Regions from separate parts of the Homo sapiens genome. Here regions 1 and 2 are each linked to region 3. Evidence: fine-mapped expression QTL. A gene starts in region 3. Each other region holds a variant in brackets. All regions are shown on one strand. Distances are from middle to middle.

Region 1 (10,088 bases), 210 kb before region 3:
TCACAATTATCCTTGTATTCTCTGAGCTCCAAGAAAAGCCCCAGAGCCCAGAAACACTAAGGAGCTCAGGCTTGGGATCAGATGAGGGTTCAAATGCTGCCCCTGCTGCTTCCTATCTACAGTCATGCATGGCATGATGGTGTTTCAGTCAATGGTGGCCTGTATATATGACGGTGGTCCCATACAGTTATAATGGAGATGAAAAATTCCTATGGCCTAATGATGATGTAGTAGCCATCCTAAAGTCATAGTGAGATACCTACTCGTGTTTGTTGTGGTACTGGTGTAAATAAACCTGCACTGGCAGTTGTATAAAAGCATAACACATACAGTTATGTACAGTACATAATACTTGATCATAATATATAACTGTGGTTTATTTACTGTACTTTTAAATCATTATTTTAGAGTATATGCCTTTTATTTATTAAAAAAAAATTAACTGTAAGCCAGCCTCAGACAGGTCCTTCAGGAGGTATTCCAGAAGGAGGCACTGTTATCAAGGAGATGGCAGCTCCATGCATGTTATTGCTCCCGAAGATCTTCCAGTGGGACAGGATGTGGAGGTGGAAGACAACGATATTGATGATCCTGGTCGTGTGTAGTCCTAGGCTGTTGTGTTAGTTTTTAACAAAAAGTTTTAACAAGTAAATAAAAAGTTAATAGAAAAAAGTTATAGAATAAGGATATAAAGAAAAAATATATATATTTTGAGATGGAGTCTCACTCTTTCGCCCAGACTGGAGAGCAGTGGCACGATCTCGGCTCACTGCAACCTCCACCTCCCGGGTTCAAGCGATTCTCCTGCCTCAGCCTCCTGAGTAGCTGGTATTACAGGCACTCGCCACCACACCCTGCTAATTTTTTTTTTTTTTTTGAGACAGAGTCTTGCTCTGTCACCAGGCTAAAGTGCAGTGGCGCGATCTCGGTTCACTGCAACCTCCACCTCCCAGGTTAAAGCGATTTCCCTGCCTCAACCTCCCGAGTAGCTGGGACTACAGGCACCTGCCACCATGCCTGCCCGACTAAGTTTTTTTTTTGTATTTTTAGTAGAGATGGGATTTTGCCATGTTGGCCAGGCTGGTCTCAAACTCCTGATCTCAGGTCACCTGCCCACCTCGGCTTCCCAAAGTATTGGATTACAGACGTGAGCCATGGCGCCCGACCAAAAAAATATTTTTGTACAGCTATACAGTGTTTGTATTTTAAGCTATGTGTTATTACAAGAAAGTCAAAAAAATTTTAAAAATCAAAAAGTTTATAAAGTTACAGTAAGCTAAGGTTAATTTATTATGGAAGGAAGAAAAGTATTCTTAAAACAAATTTAATGTGGCTTACATGTGCAGTGTTTAGAAAGTCTACAGTAGTATACAGTAATATCCCAGGCCTTCACATTCACTCACCACTGACTGACTCACCCAGAACAACTTCCCAGTCCTGCAAGCTCCATTCATGATAAGTGCCCTATATAAGTGTTCCATTTTTTATCTTTTTTTTTTTTTTTTTCCTGAGACGGAGTCTCACTCTGTCTCCCAGGCTGAAGTGTAGTGGCATGATCTCAGCTCACTGCAACCTCCACCTCCCAGGTTCAAGCAATTCTCCTGCCTCAGCCTCCTGAGTAGCTGGGACTACAGGCGCCCACTACCACACCGAGCTAATTTTTGTATTTTTAGTAGAGACGGGGTTTCACCATGTTGGCCAGGCTGGTCTCAAACTCTTCACCTCAAATGATCTGCCCACCTTGGCCTCCCAAAGTGCTGGGATTACAGGCGTGAGCCACCTCGCCTGGCCTCATTTTTTATCTTTTATGATATATTTTGACTACACCTTTCCTATGTTTAAATATGTTTAGATACACAAATACTTACCATTGTGTTACAGTTGCCTACAGGTTTGTAGCCTAGGGGCAATAGGCTACACCGTATAGCCTAGGTGTATAGTAGGCCGCACCATCTAGGTTTGCGTAAGTATACCCTATGATGTTCGAATAATGACAAAATTGCCAAACAACAAATTTCTCAGAACATATCCTCATTATTAAGCGATGCATGACTGTGTATGAACTGACATGTTAACTTTTCCTCATCTGTAAAATGGAATTATCATTGTATGAGTTAAGCAGAATAGGATTAAATAAAAGATTATTAAAAAATAATAAACACTTAAATATTAAGCTTACCATGTGTTGGACAGTGTTCTGTGTGCCTAATTATTTAGTATACAATACATAAAAAGTGCCAGGCACATACATAGTAGGTACTCAAATAATCTTTTCTTTTTTCTTGATAAATGGTTAACAAGCATTTGTTCTGTTGAGATGAAGTTTCTGATCTGTGACTTGACATGAGAAAGCTGAGAAACAGCAACCATGAAATTACAGAATAATTTCAAGTCTTTTCATAACTGAACATGGTCTTTTCCTATAATCTTTTTATAATACTATTGGAATTGGTATGTTTTGACAGTGCTTGTGTTGGTGAATCAAATAGCTCCTGATTTAATCAGAACAAAGACATACTGTTTCAACATGTGCTCATGTTACTGGCTCCCATAAATAAAGCATTTAATTGATGAAAATGTAATCATATTTGAACTCTGGAAGAGCTACCGTTCCAGCCTATAAGATAATATAAGGATAAAGAATGATTTTAAATGCTTTTGACATATTCTGGTACAGTGAAAGATAATTTCAAAACTGCAATTTAGTCGTCTTGGTATCTGGCAAAGAGGAGGTGCTCAATATCCTGGTACTAATCAGTAATTGCTAAGGAAGCCGGGCTGCGAAGTGGTCATACTTAGCCAACTGTGGACCAGGGATTTATAGGGTGGTCAGCCTGATATTTCCAAACTCATTATAGTATGAATCATTATAGTATGAATAGACACACACACACACACACACACACACACACACACACACACACAGTATTTAGTATAGTATTCAGTATATATTATAATAATATATATTACCTATATTCAATATAGTATTCATTATAGTATGAATTTTTAAAGATTATTTATGCCTGAGATTATTGAAAGACATACATTAAAGAAAGCTAGAAAATTTGTCATTGAAGTGCCTGTATTGGAAAGTATGTGGGTGTTGAAATTGGAATGTTAAAAAACAAGGCAGCATAAATTACTGAATTGCTATGGGGAAATGCCTTCAAGGCTGATTGGTAAACCTAGAGAACGTGAAATGTAAGATGGGATTGAAGCCAACAAGGAGGTTCCCAAGGGGCAAAAAAAAAAAGAATTGGCCCCATTCTTGCTGTCTAAAAAAGTTTTTTATGATGTTCAAATGAAGCATCGTGGGTGAAAAAAAGCTTATAAATTGGAGACACTACACAGATAGTAATTATACTTTTGTTGATTGAAAACATTTTCCTGAAAACTCCAAGAACAAACCTTTAGTGGTGAGGGAAGTAATCATATTGCCCTATTTTGCACTGAAGCTCATCATAATTTTTCTTCCTCAAACCATTCCTACTTCAGACTTCCCTTTTTCCATAAGTGGCAGTTCTATCCTTCCAGTTGCTTAAGCCAGAAACTTCAGTCAGCCCAGATACTGCTCTTTCTCTCATACACCAAATCCATCTTACATCTTCCTCCACATTTTCACTTCTCCTGTCCTAGACCTAGCCACCAACACCTTTCACTTGGATTATTCTGTGGTCTTTTTAGTTGGTCTTCCTGCTTCTGCTCTTGCTTTCTTCTCACATAGCTGCAGAGTGATCCTTTTAAAAGATAAATCAAATTATGTTCCTCCTCTGCTCAGAATCCTTCAATGGCTTCCCCAAAGCCAAAATCTTCACAGCAGCCTGCAAGTTCATATAAAATATGACTCCCTGATAGCTTCCTGAGTTCATCTCCTAGCATCTCTGCTGTGATCATTTTGTTCCAACCACTGTGGCCTCAAATACGCCACACAAGCTCCCACTTCAGAGACTTTGCTCTTTTTGTTTTTCTGCCTTGAATATTCTTCCGCACGTACCCACATGGCTCACTTCCTCATTTCCCTCTGGTGTTGTTTTGTGTTACCTCAACACTAAGGCTTTGATCACTCTGTTAAAAGTAGGACTCCCTGTCCTCCTCCCTTGTTCAGTTTTTTTCTCCTAACATTTGTTTTCATTCAACATACATATTATAGTTGACCCTTGAACAACACAGGGGTGTTGACCCCACACGCAGTTGAAGATTTGCATATAACTTTTGACTTCTCAAAAACTTTACTAATAGCCTACTGTTGACCAGAAGCCTTACCACAATAACATAAGCAGTCAATCAACACGTATTTTATATGTTATATATTACATACTGTTTTCTTACAATAGAGTAAGCTGGAGAAAAAATGTTACAAAGAAAATCATAAGGAAGAGAAAATATATTAATATTGACTCTTCACTGAGTGGAAGTGGATCATCATAAAGGTCTTCATCCTTGTCATCTTCACGTTGGGTAGGCTGAGGAGGAGTAAGAGGAGAGGTTGGTGTTGCTGTCTTAGGGTGCCACAGGTGGAAGAGGGGAGGAGGCAGAAAGGAAGGCAAGAGGGGCAGGTACACGTGGTGTAACTTTTCAGAAATAACATTATAGTTTCTGTCTGAATGTTTGCTTTTTCCTTCCTCTAAAACTGTTTCTATATGGTATCAACTCCTCTTCCACTGTTTGCTTTAGTTTCAGTGCCATATCATAGAGGGATCTTGTCATAAAAGCAGTCCTGAGTAATCCAAACCCTTCTGCCAGATTGTCAATGTTGATTTATTTTCTGGCACTGCTTCTTCTACATCTTCTTCTTTATTGGCACTGGTTTTGGAATTATTCATCTCCATCAAGTCGTCTTCTGTTAATTCCTCTGGTGTGCTATCTATTAGCTCTTGAATTTCTCCACGATCTATATCTTTTTTTTTTTTTTTTTTTTTTTTGAGATGGGAGTCTTGCTCTGTCGCCCAGGCTGGAGTGCAGTGCCGCGATCTCAGCTTACTTCAACCTCCGCCTCCTGGGTTCAAGCGATTCTCCTGCCTTAGCCTCCTGAGTAGCTGGGATTACAGGCATATGCCACCATGTCCGGCTAATTTTTGTATTTTTAATAGAGACGACGTTTCACCTTGTTGGCCAGGCCTGTCTGGAACTCCTGACCTCAAGTGATCCGCCCGCCTCAGCCTCCCAAAGTGCTGGCATTACAGGCGTGAGCCACCGCGTCCGGCCCATGATCTATATCTTAACCCTTCACCTCCGACCTTTTTGGCCGTATCTACAACCTCTTTCATGATTTTTGTGATTGGCTCTGTTGTCAATCCTGTGAAGTTATGCAGGACATCTGGACAATTTTCTCTAGCAGGAGTCTATTGTTTCAGGCTTGATGGCTTTCAGGACTTTTTCTATAACAATGGAATCTTCA[A/G]TAGTGTAATCCTTCCAGACTTTCATGATGTTCTATCAGGGTTCTCTTGCATAGTGTTGACAGTCCTTTCCATAAAGGAATGTGTGTAATGAGCCTTAAAGGCCCTTATGAGCTCCTGATCTAGGGACTGAATTAGAGACATTGTGTTTGGGAGCAAGTAGACGCCCTTCACCAGTTTTGGTGTTGAACTCATGGGGTGAGTTGAACTCATGGGTGGCTTGGGGGCATTGTCAAATATCAAAAGAACTTGAAAAAGCAGACCCTTACTGGCAAGGTACTTCCTGACTTCAGGGACAAATCATTGATGGAACCAGTTCAGAAAAAGGGTTCTTTTTGTCCAGGCCTTAATGTACAACCAAAAAACTAGCAGCTGGCTTTTATCTTTTCCCTTCGAGGCGTGGGGGTTAGCGGGCTGTCCTGATTATAAACCTAACTGCACTTGCTCAAAATAGTCAAGTTAGCCTATCCTTTCCTCCCTTAAATCCGGGTACTTTCTTCTCCTTACTAATTAATGTCCTTTGTAGCACATTTTCCCCCAAAATAGAGCACTTTCATCAGCATTAAAAACCTGTTCAGGTTGGGTGCAGTGGCTCATTCTTGAAATCCCAGCATTTTGGGAGGCCAAGGTGGGAGGATTGCTTGAGCCCAGGAGTTTCAGACTAGTCTGCTCAATGTAGTGAGACCTCGTCTCTGCAGAAAAGTAAAAAAAAAAAAAAAAAAAAAATTAGCTGAGCATGGTGGCATATGCCTGTAGTCTTAGCTACTAGGGAGGTTGAGGTGAGAGGATTGCTTGAGCCTAGGAAGTGGAGGTTGCAGTGATCCGAGCTCATGCCATTGCACTCCAGCCTGGGTGACAGAACAAGACCCTGTCTCAAAAAAATTCCACAGAAACCTATTCAGGTGGAAATCCTTTCTCCTTAATGATTTTCTTAACTGGCATTGGGGAACTCATTTGCTGCCTATTGGTCAGCAGAAGCTGCTTCTCCTCCTAAAGTTTTAAAGCCAAACCACTTTCTAAAATTATCAAACCATCCTTTGCTGGCATTAAATCCTCCAGCTTTAGATCCTTCACCTTTTTTTTTTTTTTTTCTGAGATGGAATTTCGCTCTTGTTGCCCATGCTAGAGTGCAGTGGCATGATCTTGGCTCACTGCAATCTCTGCCTCCCAGGTTCAAGTGATTCTCTTGCCTCAGCCTCACGAGTAGCTGGGATTACAGGCATGTGCCACCACGCCCGGCTAATTTTGTATTTTTAGTAGAGATGGGGTTTCTCCATGTTGGTCAAGCTGGTCTCGAACTCCCCACCTCAGGTGATCCACCCGCCTCGGCCTCCCAAAGTGCTGGGATTACAGGCGTGAGCTACCGCGACCGGACTCCTTCACCTTTCTTTTGCTTTGTCATATAATGACTTTGCTTTTTCTCAAATCATATGAAAGTTTATAGGTATGCCTTTCTACAGCAGTCGTGCACCCACATAAAAGCTGCATTTTCAACATGAGATAAAAACATAATTCACACAAAATGCGAGGTTTTTGCACCTGTTGGCGTAGCTGCAGTGATGGCTTCACAAATTTCCTTTGCTTTTTTTTTTTTTTTTTTAAACAATGGTCCTTGTGCTGGATTTACTTATCTTGAAATGGAGGCAGCTGCAGCTGTAGACCTCAATCTATTGTACATATCAAGCAATCCAGCTTTTTCTTATAATGTCACCACTTCTTTCTGCTTCTTGAAAGCACGTCCAGCATCTCTAGCGGTACTTTCTATGGGTCTTACGGTGTTATTAAATACAGTACTGCACTAAGCATCATGAAAAATGTGTAAGAACCATGGGAGATCACTTTTTATTGTGATATTATTTATGCATTTTACTGGAGAGACGAATTGCCCACGTGGAGATGATTAGTGTCATACAGCATTTTACGGAGATAGTCGCAACACTTGAGCTCAAGGCAATAGCAACAGGAGATAGCTGCAAAATGATTTCATATTGCAAATGATGCAATATGTACTACACTTAATTTTGTGTAGTTATGATGTAAAACTGCATCTTTAGGTTTGTTTACATTTCTCAGGACTGGGAATGACACCATGTACAGTCTGTGTTTGTATAAGTTTTGATATTTTTTAACTTTTAATAATAGATTTGTATATAAAAGTGGTAAATGATAGACTAATAGGTACATGTATTTTATGCATTCACAACACACCTTTTTCTTAATTTTTTGATATTTTTAAGCTACATGGTTTGTCTGCAAGTTTTTTCAAATTGTCATAAATCTCCAAAAATTTTTCCAAGATAGTTATTTTTAAAAATCTGTAAGTGGACCCATGTAGTTAATGCCCATGTTGTTCAAGGCTCAGTTGTATTTATTTTATTGCTGGCTATCTACACACTTTAGATTATGAGATTCGTGAGGGCAGGTTTCAAAATATTTCTTCACCTAGAACAAATGTGGTGTGGCGATAATAAGTGCTCAGTAAATATTTATTGACAGAATTCCATGACTGTTCATAGTATCACTACTATTGATTCATGAAGCCTCCTTTAAGTAGAATAACTGCTATTCACTGTTAATATAAGTTCTGGTGAATGGCAATACTAATTTAAGCACTCTGTTACTAATGGTGGGAAGTGCCATACTGTAGTTTGCAGCTTCCTTTGTAGTTGGATGGGGTCTTGTGACCGGATTTTAATTAGTGGAATGTGGGTGGAAGGGACGTACCACTTTTAGGTCTGTCCCATGAAAACCTCCCATGTGTGATCCCCTACAGTGAATGATTTGTGAAGACTTTGTTGAAGGTGGTAGAGCTATGTGGCGGAAGGCTTTTGGCTTCATGAATAATCACATGGTGGAGAGTTGCCTACTGATTAGGAACACCTGTTTGGACTTCATCTGAGTGGGAAATACATATCTGTTGGATTAAGCAATTGAAAATAGAAATTTATCTGTTAAAGCATAACATTACCTTAACTGATACAAACCAGTAACAGCCAAATTATTTTCTTTCTCCTTCTGTTGCATATCCTAAGGGTAACCCAGATATCTTGTCTCTTTTTTTTTTGTCATTGGCTTCTGTATTTGAAATGTTATTTAAAAGCACAGTTATGTCCTTGAATATAAGTACCATTTTTATAGTTTTACTGAGATATATTTCACAGACCATAAAACTCACTTATTTAAAGTTTACAGTTTTTTTATTCACAGAATAGTACAACTCTCACCACAGTCTAATATTAGAATGTTTTAATACCCCCAAAAGCAACCCTGTACATATTAGTAGTCGTTATCCATTACCTTTTCTCTACCAGCCCTTGGCAACCACAATCTACCCACTTGTCTCTGTGAATTTGCCTCTGTGGTCATTTTATATAAATGGAAGCGTATAATATGTGGCCTTTAGTGTCTATCTTCTCATGTACAATATTTTCAAGGTTATCCTTGTTGTAGTATGTATTCGTACTTCATTTCTTTTTATGGCTGAATAATATTCCATTATATTAGATATATTACATTTTACTTAACCATTAATTGGTTGATACATTTGATTTGTTTCTATTTTTTGACTATTATAAATAATACTACGAACATTCATGAACAAGTTTATGTTTGGACATATGTTTTCAAATGTCTTGGGTATATATTGAGGAGTGAAATACTGGCCCATATGGTAACTCTATGTTTAACACTGAGGAACTGCCAGACTGTTTTCCCAGGTGGTTGCATCATTTTACATTCCCACCAACATTGCCTTTACGTTTTGTTACCCCCAGAGGAGTAGGGTCACCTGGTAAGTATAGTTCCTTAAGGGCTGTAGGTGGGGGGTACTCACAGAGGTACATGGGAGTGGCAGGCAGTGTGAAGTTGACCTCTCTCCTGCCTCTTCTCCTTCTACTTGTTCTTGCTTGCTTACTTGGCACCAACTACCCTGGCCTCCCTGCTATTCCTAGAACATAGCTCACTCTCACATGCTCTCCCTTTAGGCCCTTTCTGCTGGCTTTTCCCTCTGCCTGGCATGCTCTTTCCTTCTGTAGCTCCCTCAAGTCTTTGTCCATATGTTACCTTCTCAGTGAAACCTCCTTTCTCTCTACCCGATTTAACCACCCCACACTGTCATTCCTCCCCAGCTCTATCACTTATGACATTTAGAAAAAGTATTATACTTTCTTCCTTACACTAAAATATAAGCTTCATGAGGGCAGAGATTTTGGTCTGTTTTCTTCACTGATATATCTCTAATTTTTTTTTATTGTGCCTGACACATAATAAGTTTCCAGTAAATATTTATTGAAAGAATGAATAAATAGCTTTCCATGTCAATAAATGCATTTTTTGTCTTAAAATTTTAAATCACTGAAGTAAACATATGAGTACATTTTTATCTTAAAAAGTTTACCCAATACTGTTAAAAGAAACACTCCCTTTTGCCCTGCCCCTGAATCTCACTTTCCTGTTAATGATTTGGATGTATTCTTCCTGACCACGTTAAAGGTATCTGCACATATATATGTGTGCCTATAGAAATACGTAGTTTTGTTTTTGTTCAGTTTTATGTAGATATAGGTTATATGTATACATCTATATAAAACCACTATCCAAATCCAAAGCTTATTTCATCACCCCAGCATGAACTTTATGCTTACTAAGCTGTCTTACTCTTTTTAACTTTCATCTTGTGGATGTGCCATTATG
Region 2 (10,088 bases), 270 kb after region 3:
CGTCCAACCCCAAGAACCACTGGTGTCTGCCCTACCCATAGAGCCCTGCTCAGCCCCTCCCTGAAGAGGACCCTTATCCTCTCCCCACTTTACAAGTGGGGAAACTGAGGCTACCAGAAGGCCTGTGACTTGCCCAGGGTCCCATAGCCAGTGTTTGGGTGCACTGTGGGGACAGTTCCGGCCTGGGACCCTGGCTCACCTGGCCCGGCTTCTGGTACACACACAAAGTAGAGTTGCTGGGGCAGCCACCAAGGTTGTCAGTGCATGGGTCCTTGGGCAGACACACCATCCCATCGCCATGGTAGTTCTCAGGGCAGTGACACTGAGCCTGCCCCTTGGGGCTCACCGAGCACTGGGCCAGCAGTGAGCAGGGTGATGGCCAGCAGGGGTTGGGGGCTGCCAGGGCAGAGAGAGAGCCCAAGTGAGCCAAGCACCCAGGAGCCCTGTCTCCGCCACAGCTTTCACCAGGAAGGCCGGGGCCAGCAGGTTGACCTAGGCCTTGAGGATAGGCTCCCCTTAGGAATGGCTCTCCCTCCTTGTGAATTACATTGCACTTGCTGGGTTAAAGGATGCTCTCCCAGCCCCCGCCCGCCCTGAGCTGAAGTCCCTGGCCTCTGAGTCCAGGCTCACCTCGGCATTCACTGCCCTGCTGTGTGTAGCCGGGCAGGCACCTGCAGCTGGGAGCCTCTGCGGAGCACTGGGTGTTCTGGGGACAGCGCAGCTCCTGGCAGACGGGCAGCTCTGCGCAGAGTGGAGAGAGCACTGATGAGCCCAAGCCCAGGCTGGGGAGGAACACAGGGGCAAAGGGGCCTTGCCTGTTCTGTGTGACTTGGAGCAGGGCCCTGACCTTGCTGGGCCTCTGGACAGTGGAGGTCTCAGATGACACCCCTTCCCCAACTAGGCTCCAGGCGGAGGTCCTGCTGAGGCTCAGGCCCCATCCTCACCCAGTCGGCCTCTTTTGCTCTGGCCACAGGGACCTGCTGCCCTAGGCTATCCCAGTGGCGCTGCTCACCTTGATCACAGTGGGGGCCAGTGTATCCAGCAAAGCACAGGCAGCTTCCATCCCCACGTGGCCCATGGTTGCACACTCCGTGCACACAGCTGCACACTGGGAGGGACACACAGAGACAGATGGGGCCCCAGCCTCTCCCAGGCACACACTGGGACATCGGGTCCCTGCTCTCTGTATTTTTAGAACTCAGCTCGGGCAGGTACAACCTTAAGAGTACAGAGCTGTGATGCGGGACCACAGGGGTGGTGGGAGACCACAGAAGGCACTGGCCCGGCCTGGGGCTCACAGAGGGCTTCCTGGAGAAGGCCTCTCAGGGGAGTAGCATGTGCAAAGGGCTGGAGGTGTGATAAAACAAAGCACATGTTCCTGAAAGGGATGTGCAAATCTGAGGGGCTGGGACAGAGGCTGAAGGGACAGGTGGGAGCTGGTTGTAGGTACTGCATCTGCGTGGGCCCCCAGGTGGACGCTGGCCGTGCCCTCTTGCCTTTTAAGCACTCACCCGATTGGCAGTCAGGCCCGAACCGGTTGGGGTCTTGGCACTCCTGGCAGGCTGAGCCGCGGAAGTTTTCCTGGTGGTGGATGCACCAAGTCAGCGTGGCCCCTCTGAGCCTCCACCCCACCTTGCCCAGCCCTTACCTGGCACACACAGGTCCCATTCCTGTCCATGCCATCCAAGCAGGTCCCGTGGCCATTGCATGGGGTCTCAGCGCCCCCAGGGCATTCTGTGGACCCCCACAGTACTCAGCTCTGTGCCCAGAACCCTCCGCTTACCCTGACCCCAGCAGCTCTGGCCAACCCCAGACTCGGCCCCTCCCCCAAGGAAGCAAGAGCAAGGGGGCCGAGCCTTGGAGGCGCTCGGTGAGTATTAATTAAACAAACAAGTTGAAGGGGAATGCAGGTGGCTCCTGCAGAGGGCTTGCCCAGAGCTGGGGCTGGGTGGGAGGCGCAAGGCGGGGTCCCCCTTTCTCCCATACCATGGCACCGGGAACCCCAGTAGCCAGGGCAGCAGGCCTTCTGCACCACTTGCTTCCGGCACTTCCGTCTGCAGCCGCTCATGGACACCATAGAGCCCCCCAGCTGTACTTCGTAGCTGGGGGCAGAGGGTGGGCAGGGTGATGGAAAAGGCTCCCTTGCACAGCCCCCACCCAGCCTCCCCACATTGGCTTCCGGGGCTCCCACCCACCTCCCTGCTCTGCCTGGCCCAGAGCTGAGCACAGGGCCTAGCACATAGCAGGTGCCCCATAAACCCCTCCTGCCCCTCGCCTTTACCCCTTCCTCCCCGCCTATCTCCACCACCCAGGTGGGGCCACAGGGGCATGGATAAGTGAGTGCTTCTCCTCATTTTGTGGGCCTGTCAGGCTCCCCGAGTCCCTGCCACCCCACAGGATGCTCCTGGACACAGGCAAGGACAGGGGTGGCCCGCACCGGCAGTCCTGGGTTATCTGATCCGGGAGCTCCCGCAGCCAGCCTGAGGGACACGTCTGCTTCTTGATGGCCGCGCACGAGGTGCAGGGTACATGAGTGACAAACGTGGTTTTCACATCACAGCCTTTGAACAGCACCTGGGGCCACAGGCAGGGTGTGGTCAGGGGCCTGGACCCCACGCCCAGTCCTGACCCTGTCCTCAGTGCTGCAAGGGCTCACACCCCTCCAGCTGCCACTTCCCATCTGCTCAGGGGTCAGAGTAAGCAGAGGGTTCTGGGCACAGAGCTGAGTTCTTTGGGGGTCCACAGAATGCCCTGGGGGCGCTCAGTGGGAATGCAGTGCAGATGGGGAAGGCCCTGTGAAACCTGTCTGTTACAAGTTGTTAATGTCACATCGAGTCCTTATGTGCCCGGCCCAGAAGGCTCTGAGTCCACACCCTCTGACACTAGAGAATCTAGCCACGTTGCTCCCCCAAGCCCATTTCAGGTGAGAAAACTGAAGCCCAGGACATGGCCGCTACCCAATCTCATCCATGAACAGGGTGTGAACCAGGGACTAAACCCAGATTCCCAGCCTAGTGCTCACTTTTGCCTTTTGTTTAAAGATAAAGAAACAATAAATGACAGAGCTGATGCTGTCTTGGGAGGACACGGCGACTCCATCCTCAACTCATGGGCACAGGCACGATGCCGGCTCCAGCCATGCACCGTGGGGCTGGACCTCCAGCCACCACTCTGCTCTGAGCATTTTCCCACGTTGCTACCAAATGACCCTCTCTAACCAAGCGCAAGGGCTTTCTCCGCTGCCCAGGAATCAGAGACTAAGGGCCCTGGCCCTGAGAGGCTGGGCTCACGTGAGCAGCTGTGTGCAGGGACTCTGGTCTGCAAGTGTTTGGGCTGGGCAGTCACAGGAGACAACGGGCCATGCCAGCCTCTGAGGAAACCCAGGGCATCCTGGCTGGGGCCCCAGGTGGTTTCCTGAGGGAGGTGGTCATTGACTTGGGACCTGAAGGATGCATGAGAATTGGTCAAGGACAGTGCTCCTGGCCTAGGGGACAGCAGAAGCAAAGGCCGGGAGTGGAAAGAAGTAAAAACAAATGTGTGACAAGGCAGGCAGTGGCCCGAGGGGAGGCTGGAGAGGGGCTGGCAGCTGGGGTGCAGGAGCTCCGTAAACCTGGGTGAGGCAGAGTCCAGGGCAGCCCCATGACTCAGTTTATGGTTTTTTGTCTTTGAGAAAGGGTCTCGCTGTGTCGCCCTGGCTGGAGTGCAGTGGTGTGACCCTAGCTCACTGTAATCTTGAACTCCTGGGCTCAGGCGATCCTCCTGCCTCAGCCTCCCGAGTAGCTGGGACTACAGGCATGTGCCACTGTGCCTGGCCAGTTTTTTTTTTTTTTTTTTTTTTTTTGAGATGGAGTCTCGCTCTGTCGCCCAGGCTGGAGTGCAGTGGCGGGATCTCGGCTCACTGCAAGCTCCGCCTCCCGGGTTCACGCCATTCTCCTGCCTCAGCCTCCCAAGTAGCTGGGACTACAGGCGCCCGCCACTACGCCCGGCTAATTTTTTGTATTTTTAGTAGAGACGGGGTTTCACCGTTTTAGCGGGGTTGGTCTCGATCTCCTGACCTCGTGATCCGCCCGCCTCGGCCTCCCAAAGTGCTGGGATTACAGGCGTGAGCCACCGCGCCCGGCCGGCCAGTTTGTTTTAAATTGGCCCTCTGGCTGCTGCATGGAGAATACAGTCGCAGGGGCAGGTGTGGTGGGAAAGAGGCCATCATTACCTGAAGGTGGCCTGGGCCAAGGCAGGGACAGTGGAAATGGATTGGGAGATATTTGAGAGGGCTTGGGGTGGTGAGATGAATTGGGAGAAGGTCTCAGCAACTGGGTGGGGCGTGGAAGATGTGAGGAGTCCAGCCTGCCACCACGGCATGGGCACAAGGATGCTGACAAAAGCCCCAGGCCTGGAGTCCCATTCACTGGCCTGCCATAGCTCCTGGAAGTCCACCAGCCTTCTACGGCAACAAAGTCCCAGCAACCTTCAGCACTGAACCAGGAGGCGTGAAGCTAAACTCCCAGTTCTAGTGGGAGGAAGGGGCATAGGGAAGGGGCATAGGTTGGAGGGGAGGTGTTTGGGAGGCTTTGGGCATGGCCCAGAGAAGTGGAGATGTTCTCATCTTGAAAAATGCTGACCACACTGTGGTCCAAAGGGAGTGACCCCAGAACATCCCTTTCCTGGAATAATTTACAGATGTGTGGCTTCTCAAAGCAAGAGAAAAGGAGAAATGGTGCCCCTGACACTTTCTTATGGCAAATACCAGGGCCCCAGAGCCTCTGTGCTACCGTGATTTGGCCTTTTCCGCTCATGCCTCTGCGGTCTGCAAACAGGGAAGTTGCTCAGAGCAGCCTGTGTTGAACGGCGGAGCTGGGATGTTGTGGTCTCGTTCCCCATCCTGAGGCTCGCCTTTGCTGAGCCAGGGAGAGACTAGGAAATTGGGTAACTTGAGGGCTGAGCAGCTGCTGGCTCAGGGTAGAGGCTTGGCAGGAGGTGGGCTCCCCTCAAAGCCACCTGGCCAGCTGGGCAAAGCTGCCAGCGCGGTCACCATTCTGGCTGTGGACCAGCTCTTGGAGGAATGGTGGTCAGCTCTGGATAAGGGCTCAGGCTGAGTAAGACTGTGCTGGTCGCACTCTGAGACAGTCAGGGCTAGATGGAGCGATGGGTGAGTTAGGGCCCAGAAGGAAGCGGGAGCTTTGGGGCCTGGTGTGGACACTCACTCACAGGACCTGGGTGTTTGTAAACGTGTGTGAAATGCTGATGAATGGTAAGCCTGCTGCCACATCAGTGCTTCTCCGAGACCACAGCCGAGGGGCCCTGCCTCCGCCCCATGGCCTGGAAGGAGCATCGGCGGTCTGAGCCCACATCTTGCCGTTGGTCCAGCTGGGTGGAGTGAGGCTGGATCACGGCCTGAGTGCTGAGTCAGATTCCCTCCTTCCTGGGGGCACCTCGGGACTGAGCCAGAG[C/T]GGGTGCTGTCTCCCCCCCAACCCCACACCCCCCGCAGACCTGATTTTGCAATGTCTGCTTCCCACAGAGCTGCTGCTGGGGGAAGTTGAGGAGACACGAAGTGTGAAGTCTTTGGTGAGAAGGTGGATGAAATTCTCCCAAGCTGGGACCTGGTTCATGGGGACTTTTTAAGGCTGAGAGCCCAGAATCTAAACCCTGTCAGAGAGGAAGGAACCCCAAACTGCTTCCCCCTACCTTTGGTCAGATCAGGGAGGGTGCAGGGCTGGGTTCTGGACCGTGCTCCTCTCCCGCCACAGGCTCCACTGCACACACCTAGCCACGTGCCCTCGGTGAAAAGCTGCTGAATGGGCAAGTGCTAAGGGCCTTCCAGGAAAGCCTTCCTGCCTCGCTGCCCAAACCCATCTTCACTCCAGTCCTGTTGCTGCCCTTACTGAACAGGTTACCCGGGATATCCTTTCCCCTCAGAGCTTCCACTCCTAATATAGTTGTTCCTTGGTGTCTATGGGGGACTGGTTCCAGGACCCTCCTCAGATACCAAAATCTGTGGATGCTCAAGTCCCTGGTATAAAATGGAATCGAGGCTGGGAGTGGTGGCTCACATCTGTAATCCCAGCACTTTGGGAGGCCGAAGAGGGTAGATCACCTGACATCAGGAGTTCGAGACCAGGCTGGCTAACATGGAGAAACCCTGTCTCTAATAAAAACACAAAAATTAGCCAAGTGTGGTGGTGTGCGCCTGTAGTCCCAGCTACTTGGGAGGCTGAGTCAGGAGAATCCCTTGAAGCTGGGAGGCAGAGGTTGCAGTGAGCTGAGATAGCGCCACTGTAATGCAGCCCGGACAACAGAGAGAGACACCATCTCAAAAAAAAAAAAAAAAAAAAAAAGGCATCGAATTCACATATAATCTATGCACATCCTCCCGTATACCTTAAGTCATCCTTAGACGACTTATAATACCGAATACAATGTAAATGCTATGTACATAGAAAAGTCTGAACATGGGGTTGGGCACGGTGGCTCACACCTGTAATCCCAGCACTTTGGGAGGCTGAGGCAGGTGGATTACCTGAGGTCAGGAGTTACAGACCAGCCTGGTCAACATGGTGAAACTAAAAATTCAAAAATTAGCTGGGTGTGGTGGCGGGCGCCTGTAATCCCAGTTCTCGGGAGGCTGAGGCAGGAGAATCGCTTGAACCTGGGAGGTGGAGATTTCACTGAGCCGAGATCACGCCACTGCCCTCCAGCCTGGGCTACAGAGCGAGACTCCACCTCAAAAGAAAAAAAGTCTGAACATGTTCAGTAGAGATGCCATTTTATTTCCTGAATATTTTCAATCCAGGGTTGGTTGAACCCAAGTACAGGGTGCACAGATACAGAGGGCCAACTGCACTTACAGTGGCTCTCGGCTATGCAGGGTGCTGGGATAGAGGCCACGTAGCTGTGTTAGAGTGGCCAGCACTGCTGCAGCCCCATCCACAAGGAGTGGTCAGAGCCATAGGTCTCTGACAAGGAAAAAACTCGAATCTGAGGCCCCTCACTGACCTCTGTCCTCACTGCCCAGAGCATGAGGAGGTGGCGGAGGCCTTTGAAATTCCCTTGCATGGTACACAGGGGGAAACTGAGTTAAGGGGAGGGCAGGAGCTTACCTGCAGGGCTCTCAGCACAGCCCTGGAACCCTTGGCTCTTCCCCCATCACTGTCGCCTTCTCAGCCTCATATCTTCCTGTCCCCAGCCCTGGCCTGGTCCTGAAGCTGGTGAGGCCCTTCTCCCTGCTGCCTCTCTGAGGGACCACAGGCATCCAAGAGAAAGCGCCTGATGGTGGCAGGGGGCCTAGGCCCCTGGCTGGACTGCCTGTGGGATCCTGGGCAAGTCCTCCCCGCTCTGGACTTTAGTCTGGCCATCTGTGCCATGGGGATAGTGGTTGCTGCTCCAGGAGGCAGACACGCTCAGCCTCACAGGAGAGAGACTACCCCCATCACCAGGGTGGGAGGCTCTTCCAGAAGCTCCCAGAGGCCCCTACCATGGGGCCTGAGCAGACCTGCAGCCAGGAGCCTGTCACAGGGACCTGACCGAGGGGCTGGCTGTGGCTGCATACCAGGACCCTGTCTGCTCGCCAGCACACACGGATGGCCATCACAGGCAGGGGTTTGGAGCATGGCTTTAGAGTGGGAATGGCCTGTCCCCATCATCCTAGGGCTTCGGGTTCCTCACGAGGAGGACAGGAGGAGTTGCCCCGAGGCTGTGAGGATTCAAGGGGACCTGCCCGGGGCTGTGGCTGCTCTGTGGCAGCTCTGAGGCTGAAGTGTGTCCTTGCCAGCTGCTCATAACCCCGGACACTAAGGGTGAGTGACTCATTCTGCTTCCCGGTACTCTTGGGGCTGGACACAGGCACACACATGTGCACACACTTGCCCCACGTGAATCTGTAGTCCTCGGGGGTTGGAGGTGATCACATCTTCAACCCCCAGGTGAGGGCCACATAAGACCTGGGCCTCCGTCTGGGCCAGAAGGGCAGGACAGGCCTGCCTCTGTACACTTCAGCTGCACGCTGGGGAGCCCCGGCCCCGCATAGTCAGAGGAGGGTGGGCTGACACACCCCTGAACCCTGGGTGGCTGGACGCAGACCTCAGACTGGGGAGGTGGGCACAATAGCCAGCCCCCAGGCCTGCTAAGAGGCCAGACAGGCGCCAGCTGCGGTTTCTCCCCAGGCCCCTGCCCCTCCATGTCAGTCCCTCCCTGTTCCCACCGCTGGCCGGCAGGGCCCAGACGCCGTGTGCCCCTGCGACTGGCTCACACTTACCTGCCCCCTGACGAAGCTGAAGCCTGCCAGGCAGAAGGCCAGGAGGCAGAGTGGGAGGAGGCCCCGGGGCCCCGCCATGGCTGGTGGGCACGCTGTCCAGGACAGAGTCGGGGCGTAGGGAATGAGCTCTAGGAGGCAGGCACAGCACAGGCAGGCGGGACGGGGCGGGCAGTGGCCTTAAAAGCAGCCCGGAGGCCCCGCCAGCTCACCCCCACAGGAACCCGCCAGGATTTCCTCCTGCATATCAGCAGCCTGCAGGCGGAAGGGAAGGTGCTGGCCACTGACCCCCCATGGGCGGCCTGAGCCCTGCTCGGGGCTTCCCGGCTGGGACCCTCCTGGCATCACAACCTGGAAGTCCAGGCCACCATGAGCCCCGGGACCTGGGCTCTATCAGAGGTTCTGAAGCAAATCCAAAGGCACACGTGAACGAGTCCCCCGCCTGCGAGCCCAGTGTGTTTCATTCAGAGGCTCCTGGGGTGCTGGTCGGCGGAAGGCAGGGCAGCCCCTGAATGGGTCTGTCTGTTCCTGCCTCCACCTTTCCAACTCCAGGGCGCTCATGGGGCTCTGACTCGCTACAGGCACCCTGCTAGCCCACCAGACCCACATCCCCTCACTAGCCCCAGCCACTCCTGAGCCGCTGGTCCTGCCCGCCAACCCCCATCCACCCTCCCTGCCTCCCTATCTGCCCTCCACTCAGCAGCCCATGCTCAGCCAGCTTGCTGCAGCACCTCCAAACCCCTCTCCAGCTGGCTGGTCTCTCTGAACTCTCCCCAGACAGGTCTGCTCCAGCCGCGCAGGCCTCTCTGCTCCTTCAGTGAGCTCTCCCGGCATGTGCTGCTACCCTAGATTGTCACACTCTGGCTCCTTCTCACAGGTGGTCTCAGGTCAAGGGCCACCACTTCAGAGCGCCTCCCTGGTCTCAGCCTGCAGGTGGCCCTGCACCTGGTTCACCTGGCAGCACCAGCCACCAGCTGACATTGGCTTGTTTCATTTGTCTCCCCTGGAACATTGGCTGTGGAAGAGTAGGGGCGCTGTCTGGCTGATTCGCACAGTGGATGCTCAATACACGTGTGCAGAAGGAATAAATGAATGGAGGTGGCTACTTTTATGATCCCTCTGTTACTGGTGGGGAAACTGAGGCTCAGAGGGGCTGGGTAGCTTGTCTGAGGTAATCAGTTTTCATATCCAATCCCAGGGCTACTGTCTGAAGCCACCACTGCCTGCACAGCCAGCACCCCCAAGAGGTGCAGTGGGCCCAGGCTGAGGGCCTCTGCGTGCCAGGGCTGCACGTGGTGGGCCTTGCCTCCAGTTGTCACTACCCCCAACTGCAGACGGCGTAACAGTTGGGGAGACAGGAGTGGGCCAGAGCCCGGTGGCCATCTGTAAATGCTTTGGTAAAGGCCAGGTTGGGGAAAGTTTCTCCTCCCCAGCACACCTCCACTCCCATCAGTTTGGAGGGGCCTTCAGGCAGGCCTGAGATCTGGCTGGGATGGGGGTTGCAAGGGGAAACCCTCCCCACATTCCCCACACCCACAGTCTTCCTGGGGGTGAAGGGTCCTCCAGGCAGGACCCCCACTCTGCTGGCACCAAGGGAAACGGGGGAACAGAAGCAGGCCTGGGACCCAGGCTGGCCACGCCACCCACCTCTCCACAGCCCTGCCTGGCCTGGCTGCCCCAAGGTCCTGGGGACTGAGGCTCCTGGCTGGGCCAGGATGAGTTATGTGGGGCTCATAGGCCCTGCTCTGGCAGCAGGAATGGGGTTGGGGAAGAGTGTGGCATGGGGTTGGCTACCAAAATCCCAGGTCCTACCTCAGCAGGCTCCCTGAAGCAACCCTCAGGG
Region 3 (10,088 bases):
GAGACTGTCTCCAAAAAGAAAGAAAGAAAAGAAAAGAAAGAGAGACAGAGAAAGAAAGAACAGAAAAGAAAAAAGAAAAGAAAAGAAAAGAAAAAAGAAAAGAAAGGGAGGGAAACAGGGTCTCACTTTGTTGCCCAGACTGTTTCAAAATTCTTTCAGCATCAACACACTTTTCAGTCATGCTTTGGCCAGGGAGGCAGACACGGTGGCTTAGAAAGTGTGTGACATCCAGCCATGCTGGTGATTCTCACAGTGCTAACCTGGTATTAGCTCTGTCAGAGACAGTCTGGACGGTCGGGGTGAGGCATGATGGGAGATCTGCGCTTTAGGCCAGTTGCTTCACCTCTCTGAGGTTCTTACCCAGTTCTAGAAAGAACAGAAGTGAGCTTCCTCGTTCCTGCACCTGGGCAGGGAGGCCTGGCAGATAAAGGGGAGCTGAAGATGAATGACATGTTTTCATAATCGAGGACTCATTTGTGTCATGCATTCCTCTAAACCCTTTATTGTCTAATTTTATCCTCGCAACGTTCCTGGGACACTGGCCCCATACCAAGAGACAGAACAGGGATTCAAACCAGGTCTCTCAGGCTCTAAAGCCCAAGGCCATCATGTAATGACAGAGAAGCAGACTTGAAGATCCTAGAGACAGGAGTTCCCAGAGACCCATCTTGCACCTGCAGTTTCTTATTTTTTTATTGCCAAACCCACCCTGTTCCCCAAAAACCACAGCATACTGGGCAGACAGGGCCCCTGGCCAGTCTAGTCTGTGACCTGGGTTGGGATGTGCTGGCTGCTGTGACCCTGATAAGAGGAGGGGGCCCAGAGCCCTCACTGATCTCTGTTTGCTTGTCCTGGACTTTGTCTCACAGAGCAGCTTCTGGGAAGAGTTTATTGTCCTTAGGCCACGGTCACCTTCTGGCCTGTCTTCTGGCCTTTGTAGAAGAGAAGCTGGATCGACATGACAGTGTACATTTGAAGTTCTGCTTATTTCCTGCACCAGTATCGACCAAGCCCTGCAGTGTGTTGGGCACAATGCCAGGCACTGAGAGGCCACCATACAGAAACCTGAGTGCCCTGCTGTGTTCAGTGAGCTGATGTCAGGGGAAAAGGGAATCAGACAAGTCAAAGGGAGCCCACTGAATCCCAAGGAGTGATGAGAAGCTGAAGAGATAGAAATTTGGAGGGGCAGAGGCTCATCTCCTGCAGGGATTAGGAGAAGGTTCCTGGATGAGGTGCCTGGAAAAAAGAGCAGTGCTTGGGAAGGGGAAGGCGGGAAGGGAGGGAGAGAAAAGCAGACGGGCAGGTGGGATGTATGCTGTGGGAAGGTAGAGGTGTCTGGGATGGGAGCAGGAGCTGATGAAGAGGGTAGGGAAGGTGGCTGGGAAGGGGGTTGGGACCAGCTGGCGCAGGGGTCTGAAAGTGATTAGCCTTTTGGGTGGGAGATACTTAAGATATTTTAAGCAAGGGTGTGATGAGTTCAAGACTGGGCTGTTGAGAGATGGCTAGCACCAAGCCTGGTCCATGTAAAGTGCTAGAAGCATGTTTGCACAGGGGGAGGGTGGACAGGAGATGGGGAGAGCTAACTATGACCTGTGCCTGTCATGCTTCTTAGCATCACGTCCGAATTCATTTACTGCTCACAACTCCCCACAAGAGACAGATATTATTGTTACTATTATCCTCATGGTACAGAGAAAGAGACGTTGGCCCACCATATGCATGTGGGAGGTGGGGGCCAGGGTGGACAGAAAGCAGCTATGGTTGCTGAGGATTGAGAATGGGGAGTGTAGCTGTGCTGCTGGTGCCGGTGGGACAGCACATGGGCCCAGACCTGCTCTGAGCGCCACCCACACACAGCCAACTGTCTGCTTGATGTGCCCACAGCCCCTCCATCTGGTATGTCCAAACTGAACTCCTGACCTTTGTCTCCTCCTCCCCACACCCCGTTACTAAGCCAGATCTTCCCCCTGTTGTCCACTCCAGTCAAGGCCACCGCCATCTAGTTGGCCATCCAAGCCAGAAGGCTGGGTGGCATCCTGGGTGCCTCAGTCTCCTTGACCACCTACCCCACCTCCCACCCTCTGAATATCCCTCTAATCCATTAACTTCTCTCCCCATCCCCCGTCACCACCTAGTTCAAGCTGCCCTCATCCCTCATTTAGACGGCTCATCTCCTCCTTCTGCTCTGCTCCAGGCAGCAGCCAGAGTCACCATTTAGAAAGGTCAGTCTGCCGCAGGCCTTTCCCTGTCTCGCACACCCTATCCTGAGTGGTATGGCCCCTGCTGACCCCTCTATGTCACCTAGCCCATGGCCCCTCTGAGTCTCTCAGCTTCAACTGCAGAGACTTCTTTTAGATCCAGGTAGGCAGGTGCTTCTCCATTCATTCATTCAGCAAGCGGCAATTCCTTCATTTATACCTGCTGGGTTTAGGGTGTTGAAGCAGACAGGCCTGGCCTCGTCCTCAGGGAGTTCACATTGCGGTGTGGAGGTAAAGTCACAAAATGAATCCACTGGATCTTAGCACATGTTGCTCCTCTGCCTGAAAAAGTTTTTGTTTAAACTTCCACTCATGCGGTGCTTGCTTGGGGCAACCTCTCCTGGATGGCCAGGCTGGGCCTGGCGGCTTTTCTGAACAGTACTGACCTCAGTTGGCAAGGGTAGCTTGTTAGTATGCATGGCCGTCTCCCTCTTCGACAGTAAGCCCCACATGGGCAGGCCCTTGTCTGTCTTGTTCATAGTTGTCCTCCAGGTCCAGGCTAGTAGACCCTTGCTAAATGTCTGTAGAATGAATGATAGGTTTTTTTTTTTTTTTTTTTTTTTAGAAGGAGTATTGCTCTGTCGCCCAGGCTGGAGTGCAGTGACATGATCTTGGCCCAATGCAATCTCCGCCTCCCGGGTTCACGTGATTCTCATGCCTCGGCCTCCTGAGTAGCTGGGATTACAGGAGCAGTGTGCCATAATTTTTTATTGTGGTAAAATATACAAAACATAAAATTTATTATTTAACCATTTTTAAGAATACAGTTCGGTGGCATAAGTACATTCATGTTTTGCATCCATCACCACCATCCATCTCCAGGACTTTTTCATTTTCCCCAGCTAAAACTCTGCACCCATTAAACACCAACCACCAATTCCCTCCTCTCTCCAACAACTGGCAACCACCATTCTACTTTCTGAATCTATGACTTTGACTACTACAGGTACCTCACATAAGCGAAATCATACTTTTGTCCTCTGTGACTGCCTTATTTTGTTTAGCATAATGTCCTCAGGGGTCGTCCATGTTGTAGCATGTCAGAACATCCTTCCTTTTTAAAAATTTATTTATTTTGAGACAGAGTCTCACTCTGTCACTCAGCTGGAGTGCAGTGGCAGGATCATGGCTCACTGCAGCCTCAACCTCCGAGGCTCAACTGATTCTCCCACCTCAGCCTCCCAGGTAGCTGGGACTACAGGCATGCGCCACCACACCCAGCTAATTTTAAAAATTTTTTGTAGAGAAGGGGGTCTCACTGTGTTTCGTAGGCTGGTCTCAAGTGATCCTCCCACCTTGGCCTCTCAAAGTGCTGGGATTAGGTGTGAGTCATAGTGTGTGGCCTCTAGAGCACTAACTTTAAAAAGCTACAATTACAAATCCTTCCTCTGTCCCTCTGAGATATATACCTATGTATTTCCTACAACCTAGGAATGTCTTTCTCAAGGACCTGAAATCCATTCCTTTGGAATGTAATCATCATAAAGGTAGGGCTCATGTCTCCCAGTCTATGTGGGAGAATAGAATCCTAACTTCCCTAATTGCCAGCTAGCAGACACAGTTGGCCTAATCACATTTACGCTAAGCACTCCTTTTAATTTTTCACTTCCCAGACTCTAAGTGAGCCCCTGCATGCTCCCCTGCCTACTCCCTTATTCTTCCTTTGGAATGCCCAATCACCCCTGCGCAAATGGAATGGAGTTCAGCTGCTTCCCCTACTGTCAGTAGTTACTGAATAAAATCTATTTTCATCATTTTAATGCCTGGCTTTGTTTATCTTTAATAATATCATTAACTAGAGTTCAATCTTTATTTATGGTTCTTTTTGTTTGGTTTTCTAGTGAAGATGAAATTGCTTTGAGTAAAATGTGCAAATACTAAATGTACCATTAGATAATTTTGACAAATTCATACACCCAAATCTCCTATCAAGATATATATCAAGGATGAGGAGAAATTTGAACCCCTGTGGATTGCTAATGGGAATGTAAAATGGTTCAGCTTGCTGTAAAAAATGGTGTGGTGGTTTCTCAATACATTAAACTAGAATTAGCATATGATCCAGCAATTTCACTTCTGAGTGTATACCCAAATGAATTAAAAAGAAAGCAGGGACTCAAACAGATATTCGTACACCCATGTTCATAGCCGAATTATTCACAATAGCCAAAAGATGGAAGCTATCCGTGTCCATGACTGCATGAATGGATAAACAAATTGTGGTGTATACATATAATGGAATATTATTTGGCCATAAAAAGGAAAGAGGCCAGGCACGATGGCGCACACCTGTAATAACGGCATTTTGGGAGGCCAACGTGGGTGAATTGCTTGAGCCGAGGAGTTCAAGACCGGTCTGGGGAACATAGTGACACCCTGTCTCTGAAAAAAAATAAAATAGGATTAGCCAGGCATGGACGTGTGTGCCTGTAGTTGGGAGGATGGCTTGAGCCCAGGAAGTCTAGGCAGCAGTGAGCACCATTGCACCACTGCACTCCAAGCTGGGTGGCAGGGCGAGACCCTGTCTCAAAAAAAAAAAAAAAAAAAAAAAAGGAAAAAAAGGAAGCGCTCTGGGAAAGGGAGGCTTTGGCTGGAACAAATGGTGAATTCTTTTGGCACCCCTGAGCTTTCTTGGGCAGGCATTTTAAAGGGGCCTAGGCCCACCTAGAGATCCGCCCTTAGGCTGTTAACTTAGCATGATGCCATGTTAGAGTTTAGTCAAGTCTCTTAGTGCAGTGGTTAGGGTAGTCGTTAAATGCTGAGGAGTCTTTGTAGTTCTCAATTAGCAGGCGAGTTTTTAGGGATGAAAGGTACTGATAATTTACTTTGAATGTATCAAAAAATAGGATGGATTGCTGGATGCAGAGACGGCATGTGATAAAGCGGATACAGCAAATGTTACTGGTAGAGAGTCTGTCACCCAGTCATTAGAACATGAGCTCCAGGAGGGCAGGGACTTTGTTGGCCTGGCACATAGGCGGTCAACAAATATTTGCAGAATGAACGAACAATACTTGTAACGGCCTTAGGACAAACAAGTGCACAAAAAGAGGAAGCTTTCCCTGACTCTGTTGTGGCGGGGATCCGGACGGTGGAACGGACGCACAGAAAGTGCGCGGAGCCTGGCGGAGTCGCTCTGGCCTCCTGGAGCCTCTGCTCTATGGCGGGTCCTCCCGGGGCTGCGGAACCTCTCTGGCCGCTCGTGGCGTCCGCTCTATGGCCGTCCTTTGGGGACGCAGGAGCATGCGCAGAACTGCTCCCGGCCCGGATCGCTATGGCAGCGGCGTCGTCGCGGGCCGGGCCCCAGCAATCCCGCCCGGGCCCGGCTGCCTCAACAGCCGCCCCCACTGCCCCCTCTCGGGCATGAACCGAGCTTCTTGTTGCCGCCCGCTGCCCTACCCGCCGCTGCCGCCGCATCCCGACTCTGGGCCAGCGCTGGGAACATGCCCCTGGCCGCCTACTGCTACCTGCGGGTCGTGGGCAAGGGGAGCTATGGAGAGGTGACGCTTGTGAAGCACCGGCGGGACGGCAAGCAGGTCTGCAGGGGTGGGGCCCGGCAAGGGGCGGGGGCGGGCAGAAGTGCGCCGAGGGCGCCGACCGGTAGATTAGGTCGGGGGTGGTCGCAAGAGGCTCATCTCGGATGGCGTTTCCTCAGGGAAATGGTCCCAGACCAAGACGAGGCCTGGCCTCCCTGTAATATGCGCCCAGAACTACTTCTACTTCTTTGTTGTGTTAAATTTTTTTCCTTTTAATTTTCATTTTCTTTAATTACAATTCTAAGTTTTATGTAAAAATTTTCAGTCTCTGCCTATCTACTTCTTTGTTGTACTAATTGGCATGCGTGATCTACACACCTTTCTCCCAACCCCGATACTCTCATGAGAGCCGGTATCATGCATTCCCAGGACTTAATACAGCGCCTAGCAAGCATTATTCCTTGAATGAAGGGCCCCAAACGTCTCTACTGTAGACTGCTGGATTCACTTAAAACTCGACTCATTTTCTTCCCGCCAAACCTTCTCTCATGTCTTCCGTTTCAGTGAATAGTGACACCAACCCACCAGTTGCCCAAGCCGGACACCTGGAGTCATTTTTAAGCCTCCCCACGCACCCCAACACTGATTATATTCATCTATCACTAAGACAATAGGCCTCCTCTCATCTCTACTGCTACCACCCCAATCCAGGACACCCTGTTGTCTCTAGCAAAGCTATGGCCACGGTTTCCCAACTGGTCGCCGCCACTTGACTTGCTTTTCTCCAATCCATCACTTTCACTGCAGCCTCAGTGATCTTTCTCAAATTTAAATCTGATGTTGTCACTCCTCTGTTTAAAACACTTTATCCCATTACTCTCAGGATAATGAACCAATTATTCAATGTGGTTTATTAATAGGGTGACAATATAATGTACAAACTGGGACAATTTTGAAACTGAAAGGCATTATTAATAGTTACACCAGGACAGTAGGACTGCTCCAGGCAAGCTGAGAAGAGATGTTCCCCCTAAATATAGGGCCCAATTGCCTGTTCTTCCTTGTCTCTGGTGCTAGTTGCTTTGCGTGGAACACAAGCTCATGCATAAGAAATTTATTCAGTAGGCATTGGGGGAATCATTGGATTTTGGGGCTGATGATAGGGAACTAGCAATAGCTAGTTATTTGAGCTTTAGTTTACACTTCACAAAACACATTTATCTATGTGTTGAAGAAATGAATTGTATGGTCTTTGAAATGATTGAGGGCAATGTATTAGGTATTAGAGGCTATTGATTTCTTTTAAGTGTGAATAATTTTGTATGCTGAAGATCAGTGACTATTAAACTTATGGGGCCATGGATCCCTTTGAGTATCTAACGTAATCCACAGACTATTCTGTCTGCAAATGTATAGTCAAGCTATATTTTATTCACCTTTTTGGGAGAGCTTAGATATTAAGGAATTTCTTTTTTTATTTTTTATTTTTTTTGAGACAGAGTCTTGCTCTGCCTCCCAGGCTGGAGTGCAGTGGTGCGATGTTGGCTCACTGCTGCAACTACTGCCTCCCAGGTTCAAGCAATTCTCCTGTGTCAGCCTCCCGAGTTGCTGGGACTATGGGTACACACCACCACGCCGGGCTAATTTTTGTATTTTTAGTAGAGACAGGTTTCACCATGTTGACCAGGCTGGTCTTGAACTCCTGACCTCAGGTGATCCACCCGCCTCACCCTCCCAAAGTGCTGGGATTACAGGTGTGAGCCACTGTGTATGGCCAGATATTAAGGAATTGCTAACACAGGTTTTATAATTGATCCAATGGTATGTTATCTTGAACTCACTTTTTTTAGTCATTAATGAAATTGTGAAATGCAGATGGGAAAGGTAATTTTTGTGGCCCTACACTGCTATAAATCTAACTTATAAGAAGTATCAATAATAGCAAATATTTTCCCCGATTTTGTGCTTGGTGAAAAACAAAATGAATAGGTTATCTGACAGGCTCCACAAGGTTGGTTTTGAGGGTATTCTTGAGAGCCCTTAGATAACTCTGAGGCCACAAATCTTACGTTTATTTGCACATTGTAAAAATACATGGTTTGTTTTTAGTATGTCATCAAAAAACTGAACCTCCGAAATGCCTCTAGCCGAGAGCGGCGAGCTGCTGAACAGGAAGCCCAGCTCTTGTCTCAGTTGAAGCATCCCAACATTGTCACCTACAAGGAGTCATGGGAAGGAGGAGATGGTCTGCTCTACATTGTCATGGGCTTCTGTGAAGGAGGTGATTTGTACCGAAAGCTCAAGGAGCAGAAAGGGCAGCTTCTGCCTGAGAATCAGGTGGTAGAGTGGTTTGTACAGATCGCCATGGCTTTGCAGGTACTGTGTAGACTAATAGCATCCTAGCTTGTTCCCAGATGGCAAGAAGATGGCAGGTGTATTTTAGGAAAATTTTTCTTCAGATACTTACATATAGAAATGTATTTTTTGGAAAATTCATTTGTGAAGTTGACCCAGTCACTCTTTCTGTAGCATTGGAACTTTTCTAAGTAAGTGATACCTATATTAAAATAGACATAGATTTCATGTCTGATTGCAGGGGAAGCCCACTCAATTACCATTTATAGCAAAGTCAATTTTAAGGACCCTGAGGCAACCAAGAGCATAGAGTGACTATGTTTGTTATCCATTGGTCAGTCGTGTCATGCTGAAAGGTGGCTAGGCTAATTGATATGCCCAGTGATTTCATCTGTCAGTCTGCTGGGGTACAGTAGATGGGAATGCAAAACAAGTTTTCTTTTTTTTATTTTTTAGAATTGGGCAGCACATCATTCCTTAAGATGGAATAAGTGTTCCTACAAGTTTGTGTTTTAATATGCATATAACTCAAAAGCGAGACGTTTATGAAATACTATTTTGGAACTGGGTAGACTTGTCCAGAATTAATTGACCATGTTTAAATTCTGAGATACTTTCTCTCTTTTTTTTTTTTTCTTTTGAGACGGAGTTTTGTTTTTGTTATCTAGGCTGGAGTGCAATGGCACGATCTCGGCTCACTGCAACCTCCACCTCCCAGGTTCAAGCGATTCTCCTGCCTCAGCCTCCCAAGTAGCTGGGATTACAGGCGCCTGCCACCATACCTGGCTAATTTTTTTTTTTGTATTTTTAGTAGAGATGGGGTTTTACCATGTTGGCCAGGCTGGTCTCGAACTCTTGACCTCAGGTGATCCACCTGCCTCGGCCTCCCAAAGTGCTGGGATTATAGGCGTGAGCCACCACGCCCGGCTGAGATACTTTCTCTAAATAAAAATGCTCTTGCTGTACTTGAAAATATTATTAAGCTGAGGATTTCATGGGTCTGAGAGGACTGTGCGTCTGACTTTGTATAAGTTGTCCTACCATCAGTGGAGTTTGTAAGCATTGTTTTTTTTTTAAGACAGAGTGTCACTGTCGCCCAGATTCGAGTGCAGTGGCACAATCGTGGCTCATTCCAACCTCCACCTCCTGGGTTCAAGTGATTCTTGTGCCTCAGCCTCCCAAGTAGCTGGGATTATAGGCGTGCGTCACCATGCCCAGCTAATTTTTGTATTTTTTTAGTAGAGATGGGGTTTTGCCATGTTGCCCAGGCTGGTCTTGAACTCCTGGCCTCAAGTGATCCGCTCACCTCGGCCTCCCAAACTGCTGAACACTGCGCCTGGCCTGTAAACATATTTTTTTTTTTTTTGAGACGGAGTCTCGCTCTGTCGCCCAGGCCGGACTACGGACTGCAGTGGCGCAATCTTGGCTCACTGCAAGCTCCGCTTCCCGGGTTCACGCCATTCTCCTGCCTCAGCGTCCCGAGTAGCTGGGACTACAGGCGCCCGCCACTGCGCCCGGCTAATTTTTTGTATTTTTAGTAGAGACGGGGTTTCACCTTGTTAGCCAGGATGGTCTCGATCTCCTGACCTCATGATCCACCCGCCTCGGCCTCCCAAAGTGCTGGGATTACAGGCGTGAGCCACTGCGCCCGGCTTGTAAACATATTTTTAAACTGGATTCATGTAATGCCAAAATGGTATAATTGTCAAGCTACCAGGGAACAGTTTTGATGGGTACTGGGTAAGTCAACACATGGAACTTAATTTTCTCATTTCAAAAATTGTAAATTAGACCTTTTATTTAGAGATTATAAAGCAATAATGTTTGGTAGGTATTTGCTTGTTGAATAAGGAATTGTATGGTTGGTTACTCTTTACGGTCAAAGACTCTAACTCATGCCATTGCTGATGGTATATAATAAGCCAGGAATAAATACATAATTAAGTCTATTTATATGTAATAAAATCTTGTTTCTTTCCTCAGTATTTACATGAAAAAC

The links. PIP is the estimated chance that this variant, and not a neighbour inherited with it, causes the effect.
Region 1: its variant is the best candidate, but not a certain one, in a credible set for the expression of NEK4 in whole blood (TOPMed, PIP 0.79).
Region 2: its variant is the best candidate, but not a certain one, in a credible set for the expression of NEK4 in sun-exposed skin (GTEx, PIP 0.80).

The regions. Positions count from the first base shown.
Region 1 is chr3:52,977,564-52,987,651 of GRCh38, reverse strand. All of the region lies in intron 1 of SFMBT1 (Scm like with four mbt domains 1), which reads left to right. Among named protein-coding and RNA genes, the nearest start is that of SFMBT1, 63 kb to the left of the region's middle. The variant A/G (reference allele first, on the strand shown) is at 5,399.
Region 2 is chr3:52,493,652-52,503,739 of GRCh38, reverse strand. STAB1 (stabilin 1) reads right to left here and starts at 8,402. Exons shown (of 69, transcript NM_015136.3): 1 at 8,249-8,402; 2 at 2,438-2,574; 3 at 1,987-2,102; 4 at 1,649-1,734; 5 at 1,512-1,581; 6 at 1,013-1,108; 7 at 631-741; 8 at 200-396. The coding sequence starts at 8,326. The variant C/T (reference allele first, on the strand shown) is at 5,448.
Region 3 is chr3:52,766,360-52,776,447 of GRCh38, reverse strand. It overlaps NEK4 (NIMA related kinase 4), which reads left to right and starts at 5,508. Exons shown (of 16, transcript NM_003157.6): 1 at 5,508-5,794; 2 at 7,844-8,110; 3 at 10,073-10,088. The coding sequence starts at 5,702. RefSeq lists enhancers at 5,377-5,426, 5,214-5,731 and a silencer at 5,587-5,696.